4 linked regions of the Homo sapiens genome follow. The protein of the gene in region 2 purifies or fractionates together with the protein of the main gene of each other region. This does not show direct contact. Each region holds a gene or a part of one and is shown on either strand. Other genes may lie near its edges. The genes, in order: MYH3, TMEM260, MYH4 and MYH7.

Region 1 (7,231 bases), on a different chromosome or scaffold from region 2:
GTTTCAGAACACTCTCCTTTGGTAGCCTAGATTTGTCCCAAATTATTCTATCAATGGCCATCTAACCAAGGAAGTAAGGAAAATGTGTTAGGGATCCTAGGGGACCACAAGCTCAGTGAAATAGCAGCCTCCTTGTATCATGAAGGGGATGAGCACTGCAGCCCATTACATTCTGGCCCAAGCCACTGTGGGGGTGCTGCGAGGAATTCTGGAGCTCACTAGTTTCTAAAATCCACATCAGGAGAATCTGGAAAAGTCCCAAGAAAAGTAAAAAGCAAAAAAAGGAAAAAAGAAAGAAAGAGTGAAAGAGAGATGGAGGGAAGGAAGGAAGGAAAGAAAGAAGGAAGAAAGAAAGCAAGGAAGGAAGGAAAGAAAGAAAGAGAAAGAAAGAAAGAAAATAAAAGAGACAAGTAAAGGAAATACTATCATTGGGTTGGGCATGAAGGAAAAAAGGCATTAAAAACCGCCCTGCACGTGAACCCGGGAGGTGGAGCTTGCAGTGAGCCTAGATCACGCCACTGCACTCCAGCCTGGGAGACAGAGCAAGACTCGGTCCCCCCAAAAAATAAGAACCGCCCTGCAGTGCTACCAAGCATTGGAGCTCCGAAAAGGTGGCTCTCTGTGTATTTCCAATAAGGAGCTAAGAATGGGCTGCTAACACGTCAGGGAAGGAGGAAGCTAGATACAGTGAATGATAATCTAAGATGAACCTAAGAGACCATCATAGACAGCCAGGGCCCATTGGCCGGGATGGTTTGAATGAATCCCTGCTTGAAGGCAGGGAAAAGGCAGGTTTCCCATCCACACTGCCCAGAGACAGAACCAGGAAAACTGACCATTTCAGAGGAGGTCACAGAGAAAAAGGAGGTGAGGACAGGGCAGGGAAGAGGAAGACAAGTTCCCCACCCCCTGTGCCTGAGGTCCTCCAGCTTCCCGAGGGTGTGGGGGTTTGTCCTGCTGAGAGAAGTGCAGGTGCTCAGAACCACTGCTCTGCCTCATGGTGCCGTTTGCCTGGCTTATAACACTCTGACCCCAGAAAGGGCAGGAAAGGGGTGGGGAGGGCAACTGAGGGGCCCTTTCCTGAGCATGCTGGGGCTGGGTGGTGAAGGGGGAAGAGGTGGGCCGGGGGCTGGACAGCTGCTTTCAGAGAGCTCAGAATGTTGGCAATCCATGGGCACCAGCCTGGCAATCCAATGCCCCTTCCTCATTCTCTTCGGTCCCTGCCTCACGACTGCAGGGGACATATGCGTCATTTTCTCTCAGTAGACAGGAAAGAGCCAGCTGCTGGAGCTGGATTTTGGTCCAGGCAGTGTTACTGACTGAGCTGAAAGGTTCCTGCTGGCCCCGTTCCCAGCCACCATCACCCATATCCACCCACACAGATCCTCTTTTCTCATTTCCGACATCCGTCTCTCACCTCAGGCCCAATGGGGAGGAAGAAGACACCCTGAATAACAGAAACAAACCCCATTTCATCAGCACCACCACAAGCCGCCCCATAGCCTTTCCTCCTCTCGCTGTGAGCTGGGCTTGTTCTAGGGTTTGGCCCTTCCATCTCGGCTCAAGAGTCTCTTGGTCTTTTGGTGGGGGCAGCAGACAAGACGTGCAGACAGGCCAGGCACGGTGCCTCACACCTGTAATCCCAGCACTTTGGGAGGCTGAGGCGGGTGGATCACGAGGTCAGGAGATCGAGACCATCCTGGCTAACACGGTGAAACCCCGTCTCTACTAAAAATAAAAAAAATTAGCCGGGTGTGGTGGCGGGCGCCTGTAATCCCAGCTACTTGGGAGGCTGAGGCAGAAGAATGGTGTGAACCCGGGAGGTGGAGCTTGCAGTGAGCCGAGATCGCATCACTGCACTCCAGCCTGGGCGACAAAGCAAGACTCCGTCTCAAAAAAAAAAAAAAAAAAAAAAAAAAAAAAGACGTGCAGACCATCTTAGTGAAGCACTGTGCCTCTTCCTTTTTAGACCCTGGTGGTCAAACCAGAGGATGTGTACGCCATGAACCCCCCCAAGTTCGACAGGATCGAAGACATGGCCATGCTGACGCACCTGAATGAGCCAGCCGTGCTGTACAACCTGAAGGACCGTTACACATCTTGGATGATCTATGTCAGCGAGGGCTTTCGACGTGGTTTCCCTGGGGCATTAGATATGCGGGCAGGGGAGGGAGGCAGAGGTATGTGTGTGGGCCGTGGGATTCTGGAAGATGAGTGCTTGCCTAGCTGATGAACAAAACACAAAGACGGAGGAGAAAGAAGGCAAGAAAGCAAGAGGTGGATGGGGCAGGAAGAAGGAAGGTGGGAAGGAGGACCAGGAGCCGGAGAGCGGGGAAGCTGGGGCCAGGCTTGGTCACGGGGTGCTGTGACTTACCAACTGTGGGAGGGTCGCCACTCCCCTTTTTGAGTCTCAGTGCCTCACTATAAATAGGAATGGTAGCCTCCCCCCTTTATAAGTTTATCCCAAAGAAACATGAGATAATAATAAAGGCAGCTGGGTGTGGTGGCTCACGCCCGTAATCCCAGCACTTTGGGAGGGTAAGGCGGGTGGATCATGAGGTCAAGAGATCGAGACCATTCTGGCCAACATGGTGAAGCCCCATCTCTACTAAAATACAAAAATTAGCCGGGCGTGATGGCATGTACCTGTAGTCCCAGCTACTCGGGAGGCTGAGGCAGGAGAATTGCTTGAACCCGGGAGGTGGAGGTTGCAGTGAGCCAAGATCGTGCCACTGCACTCCAGCCTGGTGACAGAGTGAGACTCCGTCTCAAAAAAAAAAAAAAACAATAATAATAATAAAGGCAAGGGGTTTTCCATATGCACATACATACATATACGCACGTATATGTTTTTCCTCCCACAGACCTACTCAGGCCTCTTCTGTGTCACTGTCAACCCCTACAAGTGGCTGCCGGTGTACAACCCCGAGGTGGTGGAAGGCTACCGAGGCAAAAAGCGCCAGGAGGCCCCACCCCACATCTTCTCCATCTCTGACAACGCCTATCAGTTCATGCTGACTGGTGAGTTTCCCAGGAGGAAGCATGGGATGCTGGAGCAGGCACTGCATGAGGCGAGCGGCAGTTGCCCCTTACTCCCAGGCTGGACCCCATCTGGTGTTTAGCACAGGGAAAGGAGGAAGAAGGAGCCAAAAGAGGCAGAAAGGGGCTGCATCATGTAGGGCCCCGCATGCCAAGGTGACGAGTTTTGGATTTAATGCAAGTTAGAATATGCAAAACGGATATGGATGTTTTCATGGATCAAAACCAAAAACTGATCATTTTATATAGTTCAGCCTAATACAGCAAGAACGATGAGAAGCCACTGGCTGGTTTTTTTTTTTTTTTTTTGAGATGGAGTCTTGCTATGTTGCCCAGGCTGGAGTGCAGTGGTGTGATCTCGGCTCACCACAACCTCTGCCTCCCGGGTTCAAGCGATTCTCCTGCCTCAGCCTCCCGAGTAGCTGCGACTACAGGTATGCACCACCATGTCCGGCTATTTTTATATTTTTAATAGAGACAGGGGTCACTTTGTTGGCCAGGCTGGTCTCAAACTCCTGACCTCGTGATCTGCCTGCCACAGCCTCCCAAAGTGCTGGGATTACAGGCATGAGCCACTGCACCCGGCTGCCACTGGCTGATTCTGAGTGGAGACTTGCCCTCTCTGAGTCTCAGTCTCAAGAAGGAGGCTTTCGATATTGACCAAAGGATACAGCTGGAAAGGAGAAATCGGTGCTGGTGATCTGTCCCATAGAATGGTGACTCCGATAAGTAATAATGCATTGTATATTTCAAAATCCCTAAAATAGTATATTTTAAATGTTTTCTCCACAAAAAAATAAGTATGTGAGGTGACGGATTTGTTAATTAGCTTGATTTAATCATTCTGCCATATAAACATATATCAAATCATCATGTTGTACCCTACAAATATATACAAATATTGTTTGTCAATTAAAAATAAAATAAAATAAAAAGCAGATGGAGGCTCTTCAGATTCCCACCTAAAGGCTAAACAAAAAATGTAAAGGAAGAGGAATTGTGCAATTTAACTCTGGCTACTTGAGAGTTGGGTAGAATCGGGAAGCTCTTTTTCTATTGCCATCAACTCTATTTTATTTTTTCCTCTGGCAGATCGTGAAAACCAGTCCATTCTGATCACGTAAGTATCCATGGCATAGAGTGGTTTCATAGCTGTGCCACTGGCTCTATTCTGTTCATTAGAAAGTGTTTGGAGCAGAGTCTATAATAAAAAGATCAGGCTGGGCGCGGTGGCTGACACCTGTAATCCCAGCACTTTGGTAGGCTGAGATGGGCGGATCACGAGGTCCAGGAGATCGAGACCATCCTGGCTAACACGGTGAAACCCTGCCTCTACTAAAAAAAATACAAAAAAATTAGCTGGGTGTGGTGGCGGGCACCTGTAGTCACAGCTACTCAGGAGGCTGAGGCAGGAGAATGGCGTGAACCCAGGAGCCGGAGCTTGCAGTGAGCCGAGATCGCGCCACTGCACTCCAGCCTGGGCAGCAGAGTGAGATTCTGTCTCAAAAAATAAAAAATAAAAGAGAAAAATAAATAAATAAAAAATAAAAAGATCGATTTGGGGATGGGGAGGAAGGTCTGCATAAGGCCTCAGAAAAATGGAATTACCCATCCTTGGGTCAGCTGAGCAAGTGCCTGTGGCACCTGTGCCCTGGGCGTCTGCCTTCTCAAGTGGTCTGTCACATTAGTGTGGTGAGTGTGTGTCAGAGATGGCTCAGACCATGCCCAGGCCTCAGTATGACATCCTGAAAAGCCTGTTTATACTAACAGACTTGTTTCTTTCTCTCTCTTTTGATCACTCTGTACAGCGGAGAATCCGGGGCAGGAAAGACTGTGAACACCAAACGGGTCATCCAGTACTTTGCAACAATTGCAGCTACTGGGGACCTGGCCAAGAAGAAGGACTCCAAAATGAAGGTATAGATGGGAGAGGAAGGCTTGCTTTGCTTCCACTTTTAACTGTGGTCTTAACCTCAGAATGAGGGGGCCAAATGTCCTCACATTCCCCCCTCTTCAGAGAATGGAGAACAGGCTAGGATTTACTATCTTGAAGGACAGCCAGTCACCTTAGACAACGCAGTGTCAAGTTGGTCTTGTAGGACTAGATCCCGGGATTTCTTAGAAGACAAGGCTCTAGGGCTAAACTTCAGAGGTCAATCTGCAGACGGCTCAGAGAGCTTGTTCTTTTGTGGAAGAATCACATATACCAATGTGAGTGACTCACAGCATATCCTGGGCTTTTGAAACAAATGTATTACAGCAGCATGAAATGAATACGGACAACTGACTGGAGAATCAAGGGATTGAAGTGTTAAAGGAATGCTCAGTCAAGAGATCCCCAACTGTAGTGCCAAATATAACAAAATGGCAAAAGTGTTTTGAGTAAGACATGCTGCTGATTTGGTTGGTCCTAGGATTGGAAAGTCAAGGAGGGTGGGGCTTTATCAGGGCAAGCCAGAGTCACAGAGTGGGTGAGCATTTTTTACTGTCATTCTGTGGCTTAAAAACATGTTTCCTCAGGCTGGGCTCGGTGGCTCACGCCTGTAATCCCAGCACTTTGGGAGGCCGAGGCGGGTGGATCACCTGAGGTTAGGAGTTCGAGACCAACCTGACCAATATGGAGAAACCCCATCTCTACTAAAAATACAAAATTAGCCGGGCATGGTAGTGCATGCCTGTAGTCCCAGGTACTCGGGAGGCTGAGGCAGGAGAATCACATGAACCCGGGAGGTGGAGGTTGCAGTAAGCCAAGATCGTGCCATTGCACTGCAGCCTGGGCAACAAGAGTGTAACTCCATCTCAAAAAAAAATGTTTCCTCTTCTTCCCTCAATTTCTTGCATTAGGGGACTCTGGAAGATCAAATCATCAGTGCCAATCCCCTGCTGGAGGCCTTTGGGAACGCCAAGACTGTGAGGAATGACAACTCCTCCCGTTTTGTGAGTCTGAGTTTGGTTAAGATGGAATTTGCTTTGTGCCTCACAAAATAGGCAAGAGCCCTGTCCTCAAAGAGTGTAGAGACCAGAGGCAACAGATGATGAAAAACAAAACAACCCAACAAGACCATTTCAGATAAAGATAAATTCAGACCAAGTTCAATGAACAGCGTGTGTAAGAGAGGAACTGGGGGCCAGGCTTGCTTTAGGCAGGGTGGGCAGGGAAGACCTCTCTGTGGGGCTGGCACGGGAGCTGAGAGCCGCAGTATGAGAAAGAGCCCAACTTGAAATGACAGGAAGGAGGGGGAACGAAGGAAGGGCCAGGGCAGTCCCTGACATGGGGGAGGGCCTGGTGCAGTCAGGGCACCTACAGAGGGTCTGTGTGGTTGTAGGGAGGAGGGCAGGGGGGCCAGTTCCATGAGATGAGGTGGAAGAGAGAGAGACCTGGTCATGTGGGAGCCACAGGCCATGAGAAGGAGTTTGGATTCCTTTTGAAGTGTAACAGGAAGCTACTGAGGGATTCTATAAGCCAGGGAGTGATATGGTTTGATTTACACCTTGAAACAATCACTGTAGTTGCTTTGTTGACTAGATACGTTGAAGTGGGGGATGAGCATAGAATAAAAGGGATAAATAAAAGGAAATAAGGAAAACCCCAAACTGGAAGAAGAAGAAGGGAGAAGAGGAAGGACATATCTAATTTCAAACTGTAGGGGGTGCTGGGCACGGTGGCTCACGCCTGTAATCCCAGCACTTTGGGAGGCCGAGGCGGGCGGATCACGAGGTCAAGAGATCGAGACCATCCTGGCCAACATGGTGAAACCCCGTCTCTATTAAAAATACAGAAATTAGCCAGGTGTGGTGGCACGTGATTGTAGTCCCAGCTACTCAGGAGGCTGAGGCAGGAGAATCACTTGAACCCGGGAGGCAGAGGTTGCAGTGAGCCGAGATCACGCCACTGCACTCCAGCCTGGTGACAGAGCGAGACTCCGTCTCAAAAACATAACAAAACAAAACAAAACAAAACAAAAATTTTAGGGGGACTAGGCTCCTACTCAAATTACCCATAAGATGAATAGGAACTATTGGGCCATGGTAGAATCTGGTCTCCCCCTGAATCCCGCCCCATACAGGGCAAGTTCATCCGAATCCATTTTGGAACCACTGGGAAGCTGGCCTCTGCAGATATTGAAACTTGTAAGTAGATCCATGGGGATTCGATGGCGTCTCAGAGTTAACTGGGAACAGTTTGAAAGAG
Region 2 (7,223 bases):
TTTTTAGTATTGATGGGGTTTTGCCATGTTGGCCAGGCTGGTCTCGAACTCCTGGCCTCAAGTGATTCTCCCACCTTAGCCTCCCAAAGTGCTGAGTTTACAGCCATGAGCCACCATGCCCAGCCTCATTTGTCTTCAAAACCGTGAGATTATCATAGTTAATCTGGTAGGCCTGATTCAATCAGTGGAAAGGCCTTAAGAGCAGGGATATGGGTCCCCTGATGAAGAAAAACTTCCAGCTGTGGACAACAGCTTTCTGCCATGCCCAGGAGTTCCAGTCTTCCCTTCCTGATGGCATGTGCTACGGGCTTCAGAGTTACTTAGCCAGCCCTCAAAATTACATTATACAATTCCTTGCAATAAATTGTATCATACATATCTCCTACTAGTTCTGTTTCTCTGGATGAATCCCAAATTATTTACATATTTTTCTGCTTTATGGTTTGTATTATAGTGGCTAACTCTAAGCCATCATAGAATGATGTAGAGCACAAACAATAAATCAATACTCGTTATATGTCTTATTGGTCTGTCTCAGGATCAAGTCCAACGATCACATGTTTACACATCATGTGTAAAGAGAGACATCATGAGGTCTCTCTCTTTATCTCTAACATTTTCTATCTTCAACCCTTCTCTTCTGTCCTCCTCAGTCCCATCCTCTCCAATAACCTGTACATCTTTACTTCATCACTATGTCTCTCCAAATACTCCCTTGAGTTACAAACAAAACAAGACATTCAAAAATCTTCATTTGACACTTCGATCCCTGTGAATTTTCATGCTATTTCTCTCTTTCCCTTCACTGCCAAACTTTTTGCAAATGTATTTTATTTTCATGTCTTCCATTTGCTCACTTCTTAGCCCACTAGTACCTTGTTTCTGTAGATACTACTCTACTGAAGCTGACCTCTTGAACTTTCAAGGTTCAAATACCTCCAGGTCACCAAATCCAACCATGCAGAGCCTGCTAGTTGCCCCTCAGTATCCATTCTCCCCTTCTTCCTTTGTAATAGAATTCTAGGCAAACTGTCCAGCTGAAAAGTCTATTTCGCAGCATCCTTTGCCCCTAGGAGTGACCTGTTATTCAATTTTGGCCAATTAGATATAGCAAAATTGTGGAATAGCATTTAAAAAAATAGTGCTTTTTTAAAAAAGCTGGAGCAGGCCTTTCTCTTCCCATCCTTTCTTTTTCTTCCTCAAGAACAGATGTAATGTCTGGAGCATTAGCAGCCACCTTGGATCAGTAGATGACCTTGAGAATGTGAGCTGAGTGGGATGGTGCAGAAAGATATGAGGACTTCAGCTGTGTCCCTAGTGGAATCAGGGAGTTGCCAAGCCAGTGGTAGACTGACTTCCTATAGACTTCTGACTTCTTTTATATAAGAGAATGATTGTTTTAATGTTTAAGACACTGTAGCAGGATCTGTCACTAGTAGCTAAATGCAATCCCTAACGGATATGCCAGTGATCTCTGATTGTTCATGTATTCATTTATTACATAAATATTTGTTTAGCACCAATTTTGTGCCAGGCATCATTTTAAATATGGTGGAAATTAGACAAAGTCCATCAGGTTTGACAGGCTATTTAGACATAGAAATGGAGAGGTCGGGGGCAGTTGGGTTTTTTAAAATAATCGGTCGCTAAAAAAGAGAAGCAGAGGAGGTCTAATTTTGAGAAATATTGCCCCATAGTTGCCCTTTAAAGCTTCAATATGATCATCTCGGGAAAGAAGACAGAAAGAGAGAAAAGTCTAGAACAGCCCAGGAATACTTCAGCATTTGGGGGACCGACAGAAGCAGAGCCAGGGCAGGGAGGCCATTGATAAAAGGAAAACCAAAGAGTGTGCTATCAATGAAGGCCAGAAAAGAAAATACTTCCGGGGAGGAAGGAATAGTCAGATGCTTACTGAGAGGTAGAGTCAGACATAAACAGAGAACTGGAAGTTCTTAATCTTCAAAGGAAAACAACCATGAAGCTAATGAAGCTTAGGCCTCACAGTTCCTCTCTAGCCCAGGTGTCTTCCAATATCTTGTGCCTAATTCTGTATCTGCAGTTTTATATCAGTTTACTTACATATAATTCTCCAAGTTTTATACACTTGAGCTTCACAAAATCTAGACGTGCCTCTCTTCATTGTCCTTTACCTCTCTGTAACATCCTGACCACATGTACTTCATCGACTTTTCTTCTTTAGCTTCTGGTGATGCCTCATTCTCTTACACTGTTCTCTCCCCTTCTCCAGCCATTCCCTAAATGAGAATATGGGCTGACATTAGACCTCAACCTTGTTCTCTCTACACTATCCCCTTATCAAGTTAGTCATTTATATCATCCTTACACGAGCAACTCCTAAATTTGTACTTCCAGCACTGATCTCTACCTCCCAAACATGGACAAAGAATTATTCCCCTCCAAAATAAAAAAATTTTAAATAAAACTCATGAGCAAAAGTGAAATGCATAAAAAGGGAAAGAAGTATATGCTTGACCCAGTCAAGGTTACTCATTGGCATGTTCTTTCAGCAAAGAAATAGAAGACAGCCTATCTTAACTATCTATTGCTGATAACTAACAAATTAGCCTGCATTTATCAACTTAAAACAACATTTATTATCTCGCGGTTTCTATAGGACAGCAGTCTGGATGAGGCTTAGTTAGGTCCTCTGCTTCAGGGTCATCCACAGGCTGCAATCCAAGTCTTGACAGGAGTTATAGTTATCTCAAGGCTTATGTGGGGGAAGGATCCACTTCCTAGCTCCCTCACATGGTGTTGCCTAGATTCAGTTCCTCTAAGGTTGTTGGACTGAAGGTCTCAGTTTCTTGCCAGCTGTTGGCTAGAGGCGGCTCTCAGTTTCTTCCCATGTGGACCTTTCCACAGGGCAGCCTACACCATGGTAGGTGGCTTCATCAGAGAGAACAAGTGAGAGGACAAGAGGGAGTGCCAGCAAGATGAAAGTTAGTCTTTCATAACCTAATCTTGAAAGTGACATCCATCACTTTTGCCTTATTGTATTGATAGAAGCCAATCCTTAGGTTAAGCTCACACATAAGGCGAGCAGCTTATACAGGAAGTGAGTGAGGAGGCAGGGTTATCTGGGAATCCATTTTAGAAGCACTCTACCACACAGCCCCTCTCCTCCAGGAACTCACAGTACAGCTGAGAAATTACCTGGAAAAGGCTGGAAATTGTATAAGTACCTGGAAAAGACTAAGGTGTGCTGGCCCCATGACCGTCAAGGTAGGTATATGTTACTCTATAGTTTAGTCACTGTGTCTCTATCAAATTGCGCGTAACACGTTTGAGATTGTCACTGGTTTTCAGTGTGTCTTTGAGATACATTTTATGCGGGTTGCTCTCCTCCCCGCCCACTCCAGGATAATTGCTTTAATAATAAAACATAAGCTTAAAAAGCTTAACTGCGCTGTTATGTAGTTGTCCTTATTAACGGCTCCGATTCTTTTTTTTTGCGTTACAGCTCATTGTAAAATATGGTGATTCAATTTCATTTTCCACTTTGCTGTGTTGAAAGCTCCAGCAAAACACTCCTCTTCATTAAACTAGGAGACACCTTTATCATGGTTTGAGTTATCTGCATGAATACAGGAACTCAAATTTCCCGACTCATCTACAGAGTTTTCATTATGCTATGGAATGAAAAAAAAAAAAAAAGACGCACTAGCATATTCTAATCTCTCTAAAAATTACTCAGTGATTTAATAAGTAGCACACAGACTTATTGTAATTAGTCATAGTAACGTAGTAAATCGTAATAAATACATAATTGTGATTAATGTATTTATTGGCTTACTTTGCACATACGGTAAATACACCACCCTTTTTTTTTTTTTAGCACAGGTAGGGGCTCCTGGCTGATCGTGGCCCTTTTGTGCAGTTCCACCCCGCACCGTAGGGGGCAGGAGCAGCCCTTCCTCGCTCGCGGTTTTCGACGCTGCTTTGGTCTCTGTCAGACCCAACCAAGTCAGTATAAAAGGGGGGAATAGCCATGGAGAAGGTAGGCCTGTGGCCGGGCTTGCTTTTTAAAGGGAATGCTCTCCTGGTGATTAGGAACCTTAAATCACATTATAAGTAGGTGAACGCCAATGCGTGGTGCACTGCGGGAAAACTCGCAGGGCCTGGCTCAAGGGAGGCCTGGCATTTTCTCCTCCCCGCGCTCAGGCGGAGAAAGGTGCGGTCCAACCCGCGGAGGCTCGACCCGGAAGCCGCCGTGGCCGCCGCACAAGCTGCGCTCGTCTCTCGGCTGGGGAGCTCCGTGTCGCACCGGGTTCTTGGGCTGGCCGTGTCCTTCTCCCTCGGTCGCCACTGGCCCATGAGTCCCCATGGCGACGGCAGGGGCCAGGCCCAGGGGCGGGCAGTCCGAGTGGGGCTGCGGCGCTCCGGGGGCATCCGCGGCGGCGTGGCGGTGTTCGCCGCCGTGGCCGCAGTGTTCACCTTCACCCTGCCCCCTTCGGTACCGGGGGGAGACTCCGGTAAAGTACTCGCAGGGTTGCCCCTTCTGTCCCTCTCCCCTGGTCCCAGAACGGGCAGGGTCTGCGTCTGGCCCCTGCTCTTGGCATTCGGTCTGGTCAGCTCTGGGCCTCCATCCACCCCCCTGTGCACAGCGCACTATTGTGTGTTCCAGAGCCCACTTCTGTTTCCATTCCTGTCGTTGTGGTTTCTTTAGTTCTCAGGTTTTCGAGATGGGGCGTATTGTTGGTTTCGCCTGGTGGGGCTTATCGACCTCTCCACTTCCCCAGATCTTTTATCCTGGTCCTGAGTATTTACTTTCAGTCTTTTTTAGTCCACAGATATTATTCACGGTGTCCTTATTATGTTTCAAACAAAAGAACAGTAGTGGCGAACAGATAATTGCTAGTGTTCCAGTGCGGTTAGACAATACACAAGTTAATGAATAAACAGCATATTCACTGGTGATAAGTTATGGAGACAGTAGGAGGGAAATATGATTGAGAGTGGGGGTAAGTAGTGGGTCCTTCCGAATGACTATTCAGGAAAGACCTCTGAAGAGGTGGTGTTTTAGTTGAAACCTGAATATTGAGAAGGAACTAGCCATGCAGAATATTTGCAGGAGAACTCTTAAAAAGGTGGAAGCCAGGTGCGGCTGTTTCTATGAAAAAGAAAAGCATGACTCATTGGCCCTTAAATCACACTAATTGTTTTGTATTTGATGCAAGAAACAAGATCCATGTTTTGTTTTTGGATTCAATAATGCCATATCATGGCCAGTAATTTTGTCAGAATAGTGCTGTAATTTCAGGTGGTGAACCTATGGACTGAAGAAGCAGTTTTTGCTGCATGACTAGTGATCCCCAAATTGAGCAGCTTAAACAGCAAACGTTTATCGTCTCCCGTTTTTGTAAATCAGGAGTCTGGGTGCCGTTTAAGCTAGATGCTCGTACTCAGAAAAAGGTTGCTGTCATGGTGTGCGATGGGGCTGCGGTCTTCTCAAGGCTCAATTTGGGGAGAAACGCAATCTAGTTCTTTGCTATGTGGGTCTCCATAAGTTAACTGACTTCTGTCAAGAAAAAGATGAAGGACACCTCTCTGTCTGACAGCTCTGTCATTTTGTAACCTAATACTGTAAGTGATATACCACTTCTGCATTTTATTCCTGGAACTTCGTCAGTAAACCCAACCCATATTCAAGGGGGAAGGATTACACAGGTGAGAATATCAGGACTTGGGGATTAGTGGGGATCATATTTAGGGCTGCCTACCACGTTGAAGATCTTTGATGTTACATCTTCAAATTGTTACCTTTCTTCTTTCAGGTCCTGTTGCACAAGTAGGGATAGTGTTTCATTCGTGTAGTAGGGAGTTTCTGTACAGTGTTACCAAGATTGGTATTTCATAATGGAAGTAACTTTATAGTTGTGAGTTTTGGTGCTGGAGAGCATTATTCAGAGGTTAGGTAGTTCTGTTACTTGTAAAAAAATAAAAAGATTGACAGCTACTTATGGTTGGTTGAGTGTGAAGGATGGGAGTGAGATTTATAATAACTGACGTTTGTTGGGCACTTACTATGTGCCAGGCACTGTTCCAAGTGCTTTATATGGGTTGTTGTTTTAACCCTCCCAGCTACCCTTAAAAGTAGGTGCAATTATTATTTTCCTTTTATAAATGGGAAAACTAAGGCTAAGCTATGCCCAAAGTCACACAAAGTAGAGAAATCAGGAAAAGAAAAGTATATTGACTTCAGAATATGCCCCCTTAACCTCTACTTTTCGTCAAAACATTTCATGAAATTCTTTTCTAAATCCACCATCACATATGTAGTGATGTTTAAAATTTATTTAAAATCATGATTATTGCCTTGCCTTTATTAATACTGTATTTTATTTTTTCCTAAAAGAATAAAGTTGTGTATTCACCTTGAGTTACCAAACTTTAGGTGCTTTAATTTTGTTTGGTTTGATGTTAAATAGTGGTTGCTTCTAATATTTTTATGTTCATTTTTGGGAATGATAAACTGTTTTCCAAGTATATGCCAATATGGAAAATTTGCTTTATCGTATATTTGATAATTGTGTTTACATGTTGAATGCACTATTCTTGAATGTTTATGAATTATATTTTCATCAATAAACAGAACACATCTCAAAACCAGTATAAAGCATGTATTCTTCTTCCTGATAAGTCTTACATTTTACTCCATAGATTCATCACATTGTGTCGTCTTGCCAAAATTATTTTTTGTACCACTTGACACACACAGTTCATTTATGGGCAGGGTGCTTGTGGTGCTTTTCGGGGAGGGGGTAGGAATCTGGCCTTCACTAAATTAGTTTGTACGTGAGTTTATTTCAAAGATACTGTCTTTAACAGATGTGATGTGTGACAGTCTAGTCTAATTAATATTGAGAAGTATGATATAAAGGGAGCTGGTTTTTGTAAAGGTTAAGCATCTGCTGACAACTCTGGGCTTGCCATTAGTTTGTATTGCAGACAACAAAGCCGTGGTTCTCAGACAGGAACGTACTTCAGAATTACCTGGGAAACTTGAGCCCCCAGTGCAAGTGGGTCTTAGTAGATTATGGAATTTGGAGGTGTGGGCAAGGAATCTTCATTTTTAAAAAGCAGGTTAATTCTGATGCAGGTAGACACAACTGAGGAACCTTTCATGTAAAGGGTTGGGAGAAAGCCAAGACTCGGGAAGCTCGAGGTTTTTTTACTATTCCCTTCCTCTTTATCACAATCAA
Region 3 (7,231 bases), on a different chromosome or scaffold from region 2:
GTTTAGAACTATATAATAGGAAAACAATCTGAAGGTTTATAATTTAATAAACCAAAATGCCTTAAATTCAGAAGAAAATACTAATAGATACTCTGTAGATAGAATACTTGTTATGCGTAATTTCCTATATTTATCTTGTTCTGTAGTTCAACAGCCTGGAGCAGCTGTGCATCAACTTCACCAACGAGAAACTGCAACAGTTTTTCAACCACCACATGTTCGTGCTGGAGCAGGAAGAGTACAAGAAGGAAGGCATCGAGTGGGAGTTCATTGACTTCGGGATGGACCTGGCTGCCTGCATCGAGCTCATCGAGAAGGTTCATATGACTTTTCTAGCTTTCAAAACATGAAAACCAAATTGCTTGCCTCCCTGTGCTTAATCACACTCCCTGTTCTCAAAGAACAAGCAGTGCTGTTTCCTGACACACTCGTATATTCTGATTGGTTGTGAGGTATGTTCCAAGTGATCTGTTATTAATAAGTAGAGCAGTTTGTAGAAAAATGTTTATCACTCACACACATATGGATTCGCATTTATCCCTCTAAAAACTTAATTCTCCCTCACTTTTCTTCCTACACTATTTCATGCATATGGGAGAAAGGGATGAAATTACAGCTATTCCTCTGGGTTGTGTAATTAACCCTGGTGTACCCATGACAGTGTATTGTGCATTTATCATCATCCCTCATGTGTAACAAGGCAGGCTATGTCAACACGTCTTAAAGATTGGAAGGTTAGTCCTTCAACTGTTGCAGTCATTAAGTCTTTCCCCGTTCATGATAACTACTGAATAAACACCAAACCTCTGTATCACTTACCTAGAAAATGGGCCCTGAATTCCCCATTACTAAGGGGGTGAAGCAATAGTTACATCAGATCTAGATATGTTAACACTCATCAAGCAATCGTTAAACACTTCCAAAAGTATCTTGGGAGCTTGTCATATACTTATTGATATCAATAAAGTGTATGTGTGAACCCTACCCTAAGCAGTGGGAAAGGAAGCGTAAATGCAATTGCCACCTAGGAAAACTTAAAATACTCAGGTTAAAATTCACAAAAATATGAAAGATAAGAGTTTAAAAGCAGACTAGGTCTGCACAATTTGGGGAAAAGATACGTTAATCTGGTGATATAATATCTCTACTATTCATGAAAACTTTATGGTCTTCAGAAAAGGCATTTATTTTATTCTCTAGTATTTCAGTTTCTGTATCACCAAAATAGTCTTAGGGGTACAATTTGTGAATTTGTTAAATCATCAATGTTGAATTTTCTTTCAGTCTTTCCTATCAAATACATTAAGAAAAAAGCCAAACTCTTAGAAAGCAAAACCAAATTACTATCACTTAACTCCACAGTGGTAGAGAATATAGGTTAAAGTACAGAATTTTAATGATACAATATAAGATGCAATTTCCTCCTAGGAATGGATCATTTTTAGTCCTTACACATAATCTCTCTTCCCTTCATACTTCTGTCACCTCTAGATTCGAGGTAAAGGAAGTTATATTGTCAGTAGGAAAGAAAGTAGTCAGATATATACATTTATGGAATAAAGAATTCAATTTTGAAGTGATGTTTTCAGAATCTGATTTTATACACTGAACATAAAGTGTGCCAAATAGTTCAGATGTATTTTTTTTAACTGAGTCTTTCTAGCAAGTATATTTCCCATATGTTCTGGGTACATAATGACTGCTTCACATGTCATGCCTATTTAATTTATCATTCAAAGTCTTCTTTTGAAACATTGTATTTTCAGTTTTCCATCAATTACATGGAGCATAACTTTCTGAGGGACTCATCATTATCATCCCTTTTTTCCTATTCTTAGCCTATGGGCATCTTCTCCATCCTAGAAGAGGAGTGCATGTTCCCCAAGGCAACAGACACCTCCTTCAAGAACAAGCTGTATGAACAACATCTTGGAAAATCCAACAACTTCCAGAAGCCCAAGCCTGCCAAAGGCAAGCCTGAGGCTCACTTCTCACTGGTGCACTATGCCGGCACCGTGGACTACAACATCGCCGGCTGGCTGGACAAAAACAAGGACCCCCTGAATGAGACTGTGGTGGGGCTGTACCAGAAGTCTGCAATGAAGACTCTGGCTTTCCTCTTCTCTGGGGCACAAACTGCTGAAGCAGGTCATGTTTAATAGCACTAATATGTTACAAGAGTCACAAAATAGATATACACTGTTCAACAGAGACAAATGTAGTTACAGCAAAACCTGACACAAAAACACTGGCCAATACATGCCTAATGAAAGAAAGTGTATTTAATAACTGTGATACAGTCTTACAGTCACAGACTTTCAGAGCTAAGTGACACTATGGAGCATTTAGCCCACAGCCTGATTTCACTCATGAGAAAACAAGAATCTCAGAGAGGTTAAGTGATTTGCTCAGGATCATAAAACTCATTTCTATCATTTTAATAGTATTGGTTCTTTCAAGGTTCTCCAGCTAGGCTGGAGATAAGGAAATCCTTTGTCAGGGCCCTAGTGCTTGGGGAACTGAAGTTCTGTTCTCTTAAGTGTTCTAAGACCAGATGTGCAAGTAACACCATGGAAGCACAGGCAAATGGGAGCCAGGATTTCCCTGCAGGTGAGCAGAGGCTCACCTACCTGGGACCAAGTGTGCAACTCTGCCTGTTGTCCAAGTGAGGCCTGCACTAACAAGGCATTACTACTCTGTCTCCTTGGCCCTTCCTTCAGAGAACAGACATTGCTGACTTGGAGTAGGGGAGTCCCATCCCCTACCCACATCTACCCCTTACACTCACAATTCTTTTGTTGTTGGTTTTTTCATGAATGACTATAAAGTCAGCCAAATCTTAGACTTTCTTAATCTACAATTGAGGGAGGAGAGATATGGAAAGAATAGGAATGATGCAAGTGAATGAGTGCAAATTTAAATTCTAAAGGGAATTTTGGCAGTCCTGATGTTTATGGATAGTACTTAAAAGGCAGTTGCAAATAACTTTATTTTTCCCATTTTGTTTTTTAGAGGGTGGTGGTGGAAAGAAAGGTGGCAAAAAGAAGGGTTCTTCTTTCCAGACAGTGTCAGCTCTTTTCAGGGTACAGTATATTCTTGAATTACAGATAAATACTTTCATTAAAAAACTAAACCATCAAAACAGAAAATTTTTTAAAAGATATTTATGGTGAAAGTGAATAAAGTAGTACAGTATACTTTTTAGTATACTACTAAAGGTTTTGTAAACTTTTTAAATGGCTTAGGAAAAAAAATTAGCACAAAAAAACAAACTACATATCTCTTCACATCAATCTTTATGATACGTGAACCATTGCCCCTGAGCCCTACATCCAAGAGATCTGGTATTGTACAAATTTCACATGAAATCAAATGCTCTTTTAAAAATAACCACTGTATTCAATTACATCTCCTTCATGTGACAAAAATCGCAATACAAAGTTTCTCTGACTGGTGGTGCTTGAGAATAACAAACTGAAATTAACTGATTTTGTGTAATCTGTAATTTCCTACCTGTGCTCCACTTATATGATTCCTCTCTGTTATGATAATTTGTTTTTCCTTGAGACAGCTCATTAAAATGTGAAATGAAAGACAAATATTGATAGGGACTCTCATGTCGATGCAACTAGAAATGATTTTAAAACTTTTCATATGGTTCCACAGGAGAATTTGAATAAGCTGATGACCAACTTGAGGAGCACTCACCCCCACTTTGTGCGGTGCATCATCCCCAATGAAACTAAAACTCCTGGTAAGACATTTCTGATATCCAGACAAGCTCCAGTGTGTGTGCGATAGACCACGAAGTATGGCATGTGGATTCATTCTCTTAGGTGCCATGGAGCATGAGCTTGTCCTGCATCAGCTGAGGTGTAACGGTGTGCTGGAAGGCATCCGCATCTGCAGGAAAGGCTTCCCAAGCAGAATCCTTTATGCAGACTTCAAACAGAGGTTTGTGTCTCATTATTTTTCCCTTCCAATGTCTTAGTCTACACAAAATCACTATATAATTCCAACATTTTTAAACTTTTCCTTGAAAAATGACATGCAATTATTTGAAAATTGATCATAAAAGAAAGAAGCTTAGGTTTATATTATCATAAGTTTTTCATCATATCTTCCGAAGTTTTAAATAAAGCACTGACTTTTTAAATGGCATTTTGTTCACCAAAACTTAATCTATCATCTTTTCAATGATAGCTACCAAATGTTCTACTGTTTTTTTCAGTGAAGAAAAACCACATTTTTATATTCTTTTTATTCTGACAGATACAAGGTTCTAAATGCGAGTGCTATCCCAGAGGGTCAGTTCATTGACAGCAAGAAGGCTTCTGAGAAACTTCTAGGGTCTATTGAAATTGACCACACCCAGTACAAATTCGGTCATACCAAGGTATCACCAGTCCAAATTTCTATCTGTCATAATTCTATCACTTTTAGACTTTCCTGTAAGTGGAAATAACATATTTAACTTGTTCTTTCATAAGGTTTTCTTCAAAGCTGGCCTGCTGGGAACTCTAGAGGAAATGCGAGATGAAAAGCTAGCTCAACTCATCACGCGCACTCAAGCCATATGCAGAGGGTTCCTGATGAGAGTGGAGTTCAGAAAGATGATGGAGAGGAGGTGAGAGCCCACACACAAGTCTTCCTGCTCCACACTTTCATAAATGAATCCACTGCAGTCATTACTTTTGTTGAGTGATGATCACTTTCCACATTATTCTCCATTTGCATCTTTTTTTCTTTTCCTACAGAGAGTCCATCTTCTGCATTCAGTACAACATCCGTGCTTTCATGAATGTGAAGCACTGGCCCTGGATGAAGCTGTATTTCAAGATCAAGCCCCTCCTCAAGAGTGCAGAGACAGAGAAGGAGATGGCCAACATGAAGGAAGAATTTGAGAAAACCAAAGAAGAGCTGGCTAAGACAGAGGCAAAAAGGAAAGAACTAGAAGAAAAGATGGTGACGCTAATGCAAGAGAAAAATGACTTACAACTCCAAGTTCAAGCTGTAAGTATTATACATTGCAGTTCAGCCACATCTTATTACTTTTAACGTTTTAAAATGAATGGTTTCCACTGAAACATTTGTTCTGATTGTTTGCTGTTCAAAAACACCAAGACTCGGGCATAAAGAAGCAATAGATGCAAAGTCACATATCATGCTGCACACGTTCATATGTGCATTCACACACAGTTTGGTCATCAGTGAGCAAATTCATAAAAATATCAATAGACATTTTCCTTTATTTATGGAACTTTCTCTCAGATCAGATTATTCTTTCTTTAGTGTATTTTTGTGCATAAAATAGAAGTTATGTTGTTTTTATCAGGGCAGAGAAATGGCTAAGTTAATCCCCTCTTAAATGTGAGAAAACTGAGTCCTACAATGAACAAGCGATTTTTCCAAAGTTGCAAAGGTTAGTAAAGTGGCAGATTTTTGCCAAAGGGCTAGTTTTCCTGATTTGGCCTGCCACACATGAATATCTGAAGGAAATTTGTTATTATACTTGATCAGTAGATAACAGTATTAACATTTTGTCTGTTTCATTTTAAAAGTTAGCAACTGGTATACATGTTGACCAAACAGGTAGTCACTGAAATTTCCACCTTATAATAAATTATTGTGTGCTTATAGATATAGCTCAGACAAATGAAAATGCTTAATTTCTCCCTTTAGGAAGCAGATGCCTTGGCTGATGCAGAGGAAAGATGTGATCAGTTGATTAAAACCAAAATCCAACTTGAGGCCAAAATCAAAGAGGTAACTGAAAGAGCTGAGGATGAGGAAGAGATCAATGCTGAGCTGACAGCCAAGAAGAGGAAACTGGAGGATGAATGTTCAGAGCTCAAGAAAGACATTGATGACCTTGAGCTGACACTGGCCAAGGTTGAGAAGGAGAAACATGCCACAGAGAACAAGGTACAAATCATGATCCATTTTAGAATATTTATAAGCACCTTGATACTGAAGTATTTTAATTAAAAATTTAATCTTAAGATGATTGAATATAAAAAATACCACTGTCATAACTATTTCATCTCTTTAGTCTTCACCACCTCAATGTACTTACTTGACCTTTACCTCCTATTTTTTCAGCCATTATAGGCCTGGGTTAGCTCCTGGTTCTCATTTTCCATCTTACGCTGACATTATCCTAAGATACTACAGCATCATGTTTTTCATCAAGATAATACGTTGTCATTGACATTCTGGTCATCTGTTCTAATCTAAAGGTGAAAAACCTCACAGAAGAGATGGCAGGTCTGGATGAAACCATTGCTAAGCTGACCAAGGAGAAGAAGGCTCTCCAGGAGGCCCACCAGCAGACCCTGGATGACCTGCAGATGGAGGAGGACAAAGTCAACACCCTGACCAAAGCTAAAACCAAGCTAGAACAGCAAGTGGACGATGTAAGTGTGAAAAAGAAAATGTTTCCCCTTGCAATGAAATAAACAATTGTGACATGAAACCAGCACTGATAGTCATAAGCCTTTAACGCTTGGTCTGTGAATAAAGTTCTTGTGCTATTTGTTGTATCTTTAAATTTTTTTCTTATGTATCTTTGAAGGCTACTAGCATAGGGTTCAGTGCTTAAGAGCTGAAATAAATAAAATGCATCATAAATTTAGCTTGAAGGATCTCTGGAACAAGAAAAGAAACTTTGCATGGACTTAGAAAGAGCCAAGAGAAAACTGGAGGGTGACCTAAAATTGGCCCAAGAATCCACAATGGATACAGAAAATGACAAACAGCAACTTAATGAGAAACTCAAAAAGTAAGTATGGTATAATTCAGCTATAACCTGCTTGTTGTATGTCAATGCAAATGAAACATACGCTAAAAAGATCTCCAAAATGTTACATCATGACATATGGAAAAAAATAATGACATCTTTGACCTTTTTATTTAATTAAACTAATACAATTATTAATCTGTAAAACATTGTACTACTCACTCCTTCAACACCAGCAGTATAAAAAAAGTCTTAGATTATACATAGAAAAGAAGATTGGTAAGAGAAGTGATTATAAGCTAATGTGTTGCTCTTCTAATAGGAAAGAGTTTGAAATGAGCAATCTGCAAGGCAAGATTGAAGATGAACAAGCCCTTGCAATACAGCTACAAAAGAAGATCAAAGAATTACAGGTAAGTTATAACCTCCACCTTTTCTGGGCATTACAGGAAACAAAACTGACATAAATTCACATTAATGTTGACATATCAC
Region 4 (7,227 bases), about 33 Mb from region 2:
GTTGTCGGAGATGGAGAAGATGTGGGGCGGGGCCTCGCTCCTCTTCTTGCCCCGGTAGGCAGCCACCACCTCAGGAGTGTACACCGGCAGCCACTTGTAAGGGTTGACGGTGACACAGAAGAGGCCCGAGTAGGTCTGGGGATAGAAAAGGAGCAGTGACTTGCCAGTTGCGAAGGGGGAGGGCTGGTGATTTTGGGAGTTAGAGAAAGATCCCAGGAGAGAAAGAAGAGAAAGGAAAACCTCTGCATGCACTCAATCTGAGTAATGCCAGTCCCCAGAGTGTTGGAATTGAACCAAGGATGTTGGGACGAGGTTAGAGTGTAACCCTGCCTAGACACAAACAGAAGACACTCTTGGCTCCTGGGGTGGACATGGATGGAGCAAGAACAGAGATCCCAACGTAGGGCCAGGTGCAGCACTCACGTAGATCATCCAGGAGCCGTAGCGATCCTTGAGGTTGTAGAGCACCGCGGGCTCATGCAGGAAGGTCAGCATGGCCATGTCCTCGATTTTGTCGAACTTGGGTGGGTTCTGCTGCATCACCTGGTCCTCCTTCACGGTCACTGTCTGCAAGAGCCCCCACCCAAGCCCTCCTGTCAGCCTGGGCTTTCCCTCCTTCCTCAAGAGGGTTAGGAGTTGGTGAGTGACAGGGCAATAGTGCTCAAGAGAGAAGGAACCAGGATCTCACAGGGAAGACAGAAGGGATATTGGGAAGGAGAGGGCTCTTTGGAGGGTCTGGATTCTTCCCCAAAGGGAAGGAGAATGGGACCATCCTCAGGTCTGCATGGGCATGGGGCATGGGTGTACCCCTCTCTGTCCACCCAGGTGTACAGGTGGCCAGGGTGGACTCTCACATCAGCCTGACACCCACCTTGCCATACTCGGTCTCGGCAGTGACTTTGCCACCCTCTCGAGACACGATCTTGGCCTTGACAAACTCCTGTTTGTCATCAGGCACGAAGACATCCTTCTTGAGGTCAAAAGGCCTGGTCTGCGCTTCTAGCCGCTCCTTCTCTGACTTGCGCAGGTAGGGGGCGGCAGCCCCAAAGACTGCCATCTCCGAATCTCCCATGGCTGTGCCTGGAGTGAGCAGAAGCTGGCTGCCCTCCCATCTGCCCATTCTTCCCTTCCCTCCCTGGGCTCTCCCCTTCAGTGGGAGCCCCAAAACCTAGCACCATGCTCAAGAGTCAAGAGGAGTTACCAGTGAGTCCCTTCCTCTTTGAGGTTACCCCTTAACCAGAGGAGCAGCCTAGCAAACCTGCCAGGGTAAAAGGAACAACTAACTATTGTTCAAGCTGGGGCTCTCCTAGGGGAAGGAAGAGCATTCTGAGCTCCCTGTAGGAGCAGAAATCTAACTATTTCCATCTCTGACCCTCATCTATCCCTGGACCCCCTGGTCACAGGTAAGTAGCTCTTGATAGCCAAGATATTCTCTCCAGCACATGGCAGAAACTAGAGTTCCATAGGCTGGCTTTGGGGCTCTAATGCCCAGTCTTACTAGATTTTCAACACTCTAGCTTCAGCTTTTCTTACCTGGGCTACTCAAGTGTGTCTACAGATGAGGAAAGGGGCCAAGGCCTGCAGGGGACCTGGAGAGAGGGAAGAGGCTGTGTCAGGGCAGGCTGTGCCCAACCTGACCAGTCCCACCTTCCTGCTTCTCCCTGGCTCTGTTCTTCAGCATCCACCCTCTTCCAAAACAAGGTGGAAAGGGTGGTCAGCTTCTCTGGTCCCATCCTTCTTGTTTTTCAAACCCTATTCCCTTTTTCCTCAAGAACTAGTTCTAACAGCTTCCTGGTGTCAACTCAACCTGAACCCTAATCCTCTTCACTCCTGCGAGATGGTCCCACCCCTGCCTGTACCCATCTAGTGGTACCTTTCTTTGAGCCATCTGAGAGACAACTAATGGTCACATTTGTTCGGCACTTTCCAGTCTAAAAGCACTTCAATGCACTTTCTCCTACTCAGTCTTCACCCCATTTGACAGATGAGGAAATCGAGGTTAAATGGCTTGCTTGGCCAAGAGCCCATGACAACAAGTGGGAGAGCCAAGACTTGAATGCAAGTCTGATGACTCTAAAGAGACTTCTTTTCCATCCTGTCCCCATTTTGTTGTCAGACTTTGTGGACATTCTCAGAGAGAAGACACTGTGGGCTTCCTCTCACAGACACACCCATCACATAGCCAAACACCCTCCACAAGCCCTCTGATGAACACTCATGCCTGCTGCTTGGGCATGCCTCTCACATGAAGACAGGCTTCCTTCCCATACCTCAATCCGCACCCCAACCCCAGGGTGCCATATATGCCTCAACAGCAAATGTGCACATTTCAGGATGTGTGCCACGTAAGTAGATCACATCACTGCGTGTTCTTCAGTACACAAAGACCTGGAACATCCTACACCCCCGTGCCTGTGAGTTCCTTCTGCAGAGGGTACAGATACTATAACAGTCATGACTCGTGGAGGCATAGACAAGAACCTCTGCATGCATGGACAGGGGTAGCTACACATTCCAGGCCTCACAGAATCACATGAAGGCATACACACTTCCTAGAATCCTTCTCCACCATTCTTTCTCCCTCCCTGCAAAGGAACCTCCTCGTTCACAGACGTGATCATACACCCACATCTCCCACTTGATATTTCTGTATCAGTCAGTGAGGTACATACCCTTTCTCACATTCAGACTATGCAGGCTTGTCCACACACACACACACACACACACACACACACACACCCTGTAATGCATATTGGTCCCATATGCTCAGATGCAGATATCTTCCCCTAGGAACTCCTGTGGCACATACGCCCATGTTTAGACCTGCACATGTGTGCCCAGTGACTGGACCTGGTACTCTGCATGAAGTCCTGCATGAAGCTTGCTATTCCAAGAGGAATCCCTTCCTAAGCCTGGAGCCCCCTTATCCCAGAGTAAAGCCTCCAGCTCCCGCTCCTACCTGAGAGCAGCAGGGAAAGACACAGAGCAGGACAGAGCTGTGGAGCCAGACCTGGTCTCAGGGGCTGTATATATGGGGCAGCAGGGCACCCCCACCCCCAACGGCACCCAGTCCCTAGCCGGATTTAGAAAGGGCTGTTGTCACTAGAAGCATTTCCCCCAGGCTCCCCCCCTTCCCAAACAGTGCTCCCCTCCCCGCCTCTCCAGCTAGGAAACAATTGGAAGTGGTCGTCATTGTTATGGCATGGACTGTGCAGGGTCTGAGTTCCAGGGGGCGGGGTGGCTCAAAGTGCAGCAAAAATATCTCCCAGGCCAGGCCTCACATTCCACAGCTGGCAGGAGAGGGAACTGACCACGACCACCAAGACCACAGGCAGCCAATGTCCTGGCTCTCCCGCAGGGCACTTCTGGCCCTGGACACTGCTCCCCCTCCAGTCCCCTGCTGCGAGGCCCCTGATGGCCTGGCCGCATTTCCACAGTGTCCTCCCTGCTCTCCTGGCCCAGGTCCTGTATCCAACTGGAAGCTGGGAAGGGGCTGAGTGTCAGCAGCAGAGAAGGGTAGGACAGAGTTGGGGGCATGGCCCCAGGGTGAGGCAGCTAGACTGGGGCAGCTGGAAGGACATTTCCTAGCCAGGTGGCAAGAACAATAACCATGGAGCTTAGAGATGGGGACTCTGGCTCAGGCACTGATTTCCTTGGACCAGCAGGCAATGTGTTGAGGTCACCAAGCCTCCGAGCCAGACAGGCCTTTAGCAATCCATCCAAGCACTTCATTTAATGGAGAGGGACAGTGCATTCTTTAAGGTTATACAGCTAATCGGGGCAGCAGGATTCAAGGTGGGAAACCTCAGCAGATGGGAGTGGAGCCCGGCCTGTGGAGGGTAGCCTGGAAAGGTGGGCTGGGATTCCAAAGATGTGGGGACCCCCTATGCGCAGAGAGCAGGACCCAGCTGCATTGGTCCTAGTTTGGAGCGGTTTGCCTGACTCACGTTCCTGGCTCTGCCCCACAGGTACTAAAGGCCTGAGCCCAGAGACAGACCCTCTCAGAGCTATAGATAATACAACTACTTGGAGCTGGAAGGAGACCCCTAAGACAGCTGTTGTCTGGCCCACCCAGCCTCAGCTTTATCCAGAGCTGGAGGCGACTAGTGTTCTGGCAAGTGAGGCAGAGTAACAGGACAGGAAAAATCTTCCCCTCTGCAGGCCTGAGGAACAGCCACAAAGGAGGGGAGGAAAGGGAGCTGGGGCCCAGCCTACGAGCACAGAACACAACCGATGCCATGCTCTTCTAGCAACGGGGCATGCAAGCTTGACTGGCTCCGTGTCTAGGCAACCACTGCACGATTTGGTGTGAAATCTCCCCCTTCTTCCCAAGCACAGCTCTTCCGCGCATGCGGATTAGTCCATCTGATTAGCTGTCAGCTTGGAAGGAGTGAGGCAGGCCTGGGGGATGGGTGCAGCAGGTACATTTTGAAGGTGGGGTGGGCATAGCAGGGAAGGGAAAATCCAGGAGGAGGCCTCTGTGGGGGTTGCTTGGTAACCAAGGCACTAAGGTACAGTCTGAGGACATTGAGCAGCTATAAGGGGGGTGCAGGCAAGTGGGGGTAGACCACGAACTGCAAGGGCTGTGTCTGACAACACCGCAGCTCTGCAGTGCTAAGGTATACAGTTGCTGAGGTTATCCCAGTAGTCTGTGCTACTAACATGCCCGGCAGAACAGACTCTGGCAGTCCCCCCCAGGCCCTGCCAGGTGCTGAGGAATCAGCCCCATTGACAGAGACAGACCCTCTCAAAGCTATAGATAATACAGCTGCTTGGAGCTGGAAGGAAACCCCTAAGACAGCTGTTGTCTGAGGTTCCCTGTAGGAACCTCAAGGATTGGCGATGAGGGGCAAAAACTCCTTTCGTCCCCACCTTCCAGCTTTCCAAGCTCCAAACTGCCACCCCTCCCTGATTTCCCAGGGCAATTAAGATGCACAAAGGGTGCTTGGGACGTAGTTGAGCCATTTCAAAGCCAGTGTCTTCACCACAGGCCAGCGTCCTTCCTTGGCTGGGGACTTGGGTAGTCTTTTCTGCATTTGGGAAATCAATCACACTTTGTTTCTCTCCTTTCGGGTTTGGGAGGCTCTGGTCTGTTGGTGTTTGGGTGTTACTGTTCTCCACCCATGCCCCCTCTCATTGCAGATAGAACTCACCTCCCTAACTAGGCTTTGCCTCACAGCTCAGACAGATCAGAGGGCCTGCTGTCCTTAAAGATCCCCACTCACTCCCTAGCTCCTCCAGCACCTGCTCTTGGTTACATCATGATTCTCTTCCTGCTGCTTGCTGCTGTCTGAAGACTGAGCAGCTTTGCAGATTCCTCCATTCAACAAGTATTTATTGAGTGCCTACTATGTGCCAGGCATTATTCTGGTCAATAAGGACATAACAATGACCCAAAGAAAGATCCCTGCTCTGGACTGCTTTAGTCAACTGTTTGTAGAAATGGCATCCAGGCCTACCCTTTGCACACATGCACATTCCTTGTGGGGAGAGTGAGGGGCCAGGGGCCCCACCATGCTGGGGTGGGTGGGGATTGTGCAGAGTGTGCTACAAAGTGATAGCAAGATAAAGGAGAGCAAAGCAAAATGCTATAAATAAAGAGAGGCTGGAAGGAGGGCCGCTTCGGCAAGGTAGACCAAATAAGGCCTGAAGTGAAAGGAAGGTGATCTGTCCCCCGTCCTCCCCTCCCCGCATTGTGCCGGCTTTGTCTGCACTCTGTCACCACCCTGATCAAGTGTCAAGCCAAAACAGGGGCCATTTGCTGTGAACACGCCAGCGGTAGTTCAGAGGAAAAGTTGCTAAAATTACTCCCAGTAATTGTGAGGGAGGGAGACACCAGGGCGAATTAGAAGCGATGTCAGCATGGAGAGAGGGGAATCAGAAAAAAGCTCCGGTACCCAAAGGGAAGGAAGAAACGGGGCAGGAAGAGGCAGGGCACTTGGTGCAGGGGAGGAATGAGGCACTCGTTGTTTGTGCACAGGGCAGAGGGGAGCCACCCAGGAGTGGAGGCTGACTCTCCCATCCGCCTGCCCCCAGAATCCCTGACCTTGGGGGGACCCTGCCCTGGCTCCACACGAGCCTAGGATTAGGGAGCTGAGCTTTCTGCCTGTCTCAGATTTCCCTTTACAAACAGCTGCTCCTTCTTGTCATTCTTTTGTCTTCCTGCTGGCTTCAAAATCTTTTGTACTTGTGCACCCCCTCTCATTCCCTACTCTAGGTCTCTGCTTTCTGATGGATGTGAACAAAGAGAGAGATGGAGGGCCGGAGACAGGCTTGGGGCTGGCCTAGTTCACTTTGGGGTAGTTAGGGCAGGTTGATCTTGCCTTCAGGGAGTGTTTGGAGGGACACAACTCACCAAAAGGGAGACTTTGTGGGGAGTGACCGGTCTGGAGGGCCAGAGGCCTCAGAAGCATACAGGATGAGCAGTCTGGTCAGCTTTGGAGTCAGTCACAAAAATCCACTTTGAAACCCAGTGATTCCATTTTCTAGCTGTGTGGTCTACGTCAGTCATATAATTGCTTTGAGCCAGTTTTGTCATCTGTAACATGGGGATAGCCACATTTTGTTTCCAGGGCTACTCAGGCCATTAGAGATTGCACAAGCAGAGTCTACACACAGCAGACACACTGTGGGCCCTCACTGAATGGCAGCTCTTAGGTTAGGAACACAAAATTGAGGAAGCCAGGCTGCAGACAGGAGGGCCGGTTGCCCTGCCATAGGTTCTTTGTCCCCACACCTCCTTCAGCCCCACTAAGTCCACTTGGTTCAAAGGATGGTCTGGACCAGAGTAGATCAGAAATCCTGCAGTCTTGTGGTCGGCTCTACCCAGACTGTGACTGCCCTTGGGAACGTCATGCCAGGAGGCCAAGGTTCTCAGACTGTCCTAGACTCAGTCTAGGCCCACAGTCCAGCCCTGAGCTGGGATAGGCATCACTGCTTGACTGCTGCCCACTGAGCTTCCCTCATGACAAGCCAGTGTGTCCTGAGGTCCAGCAGGAGTTGACCCAGGCCAAGTGGTGACATTGGTCAGGCCACCAGATAGGAGCAGGCTGGGCGTTGGTGGCTCACACCTGTAATCACAGCAGTTTGAGAGGCTGAGGCAGGCAGATAACTTGAGGTCAGGAGTTTGAGACTAGCCTGACCAACATAGTGAAACCCCGTCTCTACAAAAAATACAAAAATTAGCCGGGCATGGTGGTGCACTCCTGTAGTCCCAGCTACTCAGGA

The links.
Region 1: the proteins of TMEM260 (region 2) and MYH3 purify together in Homo sapiens (affinity purification with mass spectrometry; 3 studies listed by BioGRID and IntAct, with this or other methods). This does not show direct contact.
Region 3: the proteins of TMEM260 (region 2) and MYH4 purify together in Homo sapiens (affinity purification with mass spectrometry; 3 studies listed by BioGRID and IntAct, with this or other methods). This does not show direct contact.
Region 4: the proteins of TMEM260 (region 2) and MYH7 purify together in Homo sapiens (affinity purification with mass spectrometry; 3 studies listed by BioGRID and IntAct, with this or other methods). This does not show direct contact.

Annotation. Positions count from the first base shown.
Region 1 is NC_000017.11:10,647,302-10,654,532, reverse strand, and holds part of MYH3 (myosin-3), read left to right. Parts: intron 1-1,969; coding exon 1,970-2,113; intron 2,114-2,864; coding exon 2,865-3,021; intron 3,022-4,131; coding exon 4,132-4,159; intron 4,160-4,847; coding exon 4,848-4,956; intron 4,957-5,883; coding exon 5,884-5,976; intron 5,977-7,106; coding exon 7,107-7,170; intron 7,171-7,231. UniProt on the Homo sapiens protein: Muscle contraction.
Region 2 is NC_000014.9:56,575,582-56,582,804, forward strand, and holds the start of TMEM260 (protein O-mannosyl-transferase TMEM260 precursor), read left to right. Parts: upstream 1-4,216; 5' UTR 4,217-4,333; coding exon 4,334-4,493; intron 4,494-7,223. UniProt on the Homo sapiens protein: O-mannosyl-transferase that transfers mannosyl residues to the hydroxyl group of serine or threonine residues of proteins. Specifically glycosylates the IPT/TIG domain of target proteins, such as MET and MST1R/RON.
Region 3 is NC_000017.11:10,452,337-10,459,567, reverse strand, and holds part of MYH4 (myosin-4), read left to right. Parts: intron 1-146; coding exon 147-317; intron 318-1,838; coding exon 1,839-2,148; intron 2,149-3,012; coding exon 3,013-3,083; intron 3,084-3,666; coding exon 3,667-3,754; intron 3,755-3,836; coding exon 3,837-3,954; intron 3,955-4,272; coding exon 4,273-4,396; intron 4,397-4,490; coding exon 4,491-4,627; intron 4,628-4,757; coding exon 4,758-5,013; intron 5,014-5,682; coding exon 5,683-5,925; intron 5,926-6,239; coding exon 6,240-6,416; intron 6,417-6,635; coding exon 6,636-6,781; intron 6,782-7,061; coding exon 7,062-7,152; intron 7,153-7,231. UniProt on the Homo sapiens protein: Muscle contraction.
Region 4 is NC_000014.9:23,432,661-23,439,887, forward strand, and holds the start of MYH7 (myosin-7), read right to left. Parts: upstream 3,001-7,227; 5' UTR 2,960-3,000; intron 1,590-2,959; 5' UTR 1,534-1,589; intron 1,081-1,533; 5' UTR 1,073-1,080; coding exon 872-1,072; intron 568-871; coding exon 424-567; intron 136-423; coding exon 1-135. UniProt on the Homo sapiens protein: Myosins are actin-based motor molecules with ATPase activity essential for muscle contraction. Forms regular bipolar thick filaments that, together with actin thin filaments, constitute the fundamental contractile unit of skeletal and cardiac muscle.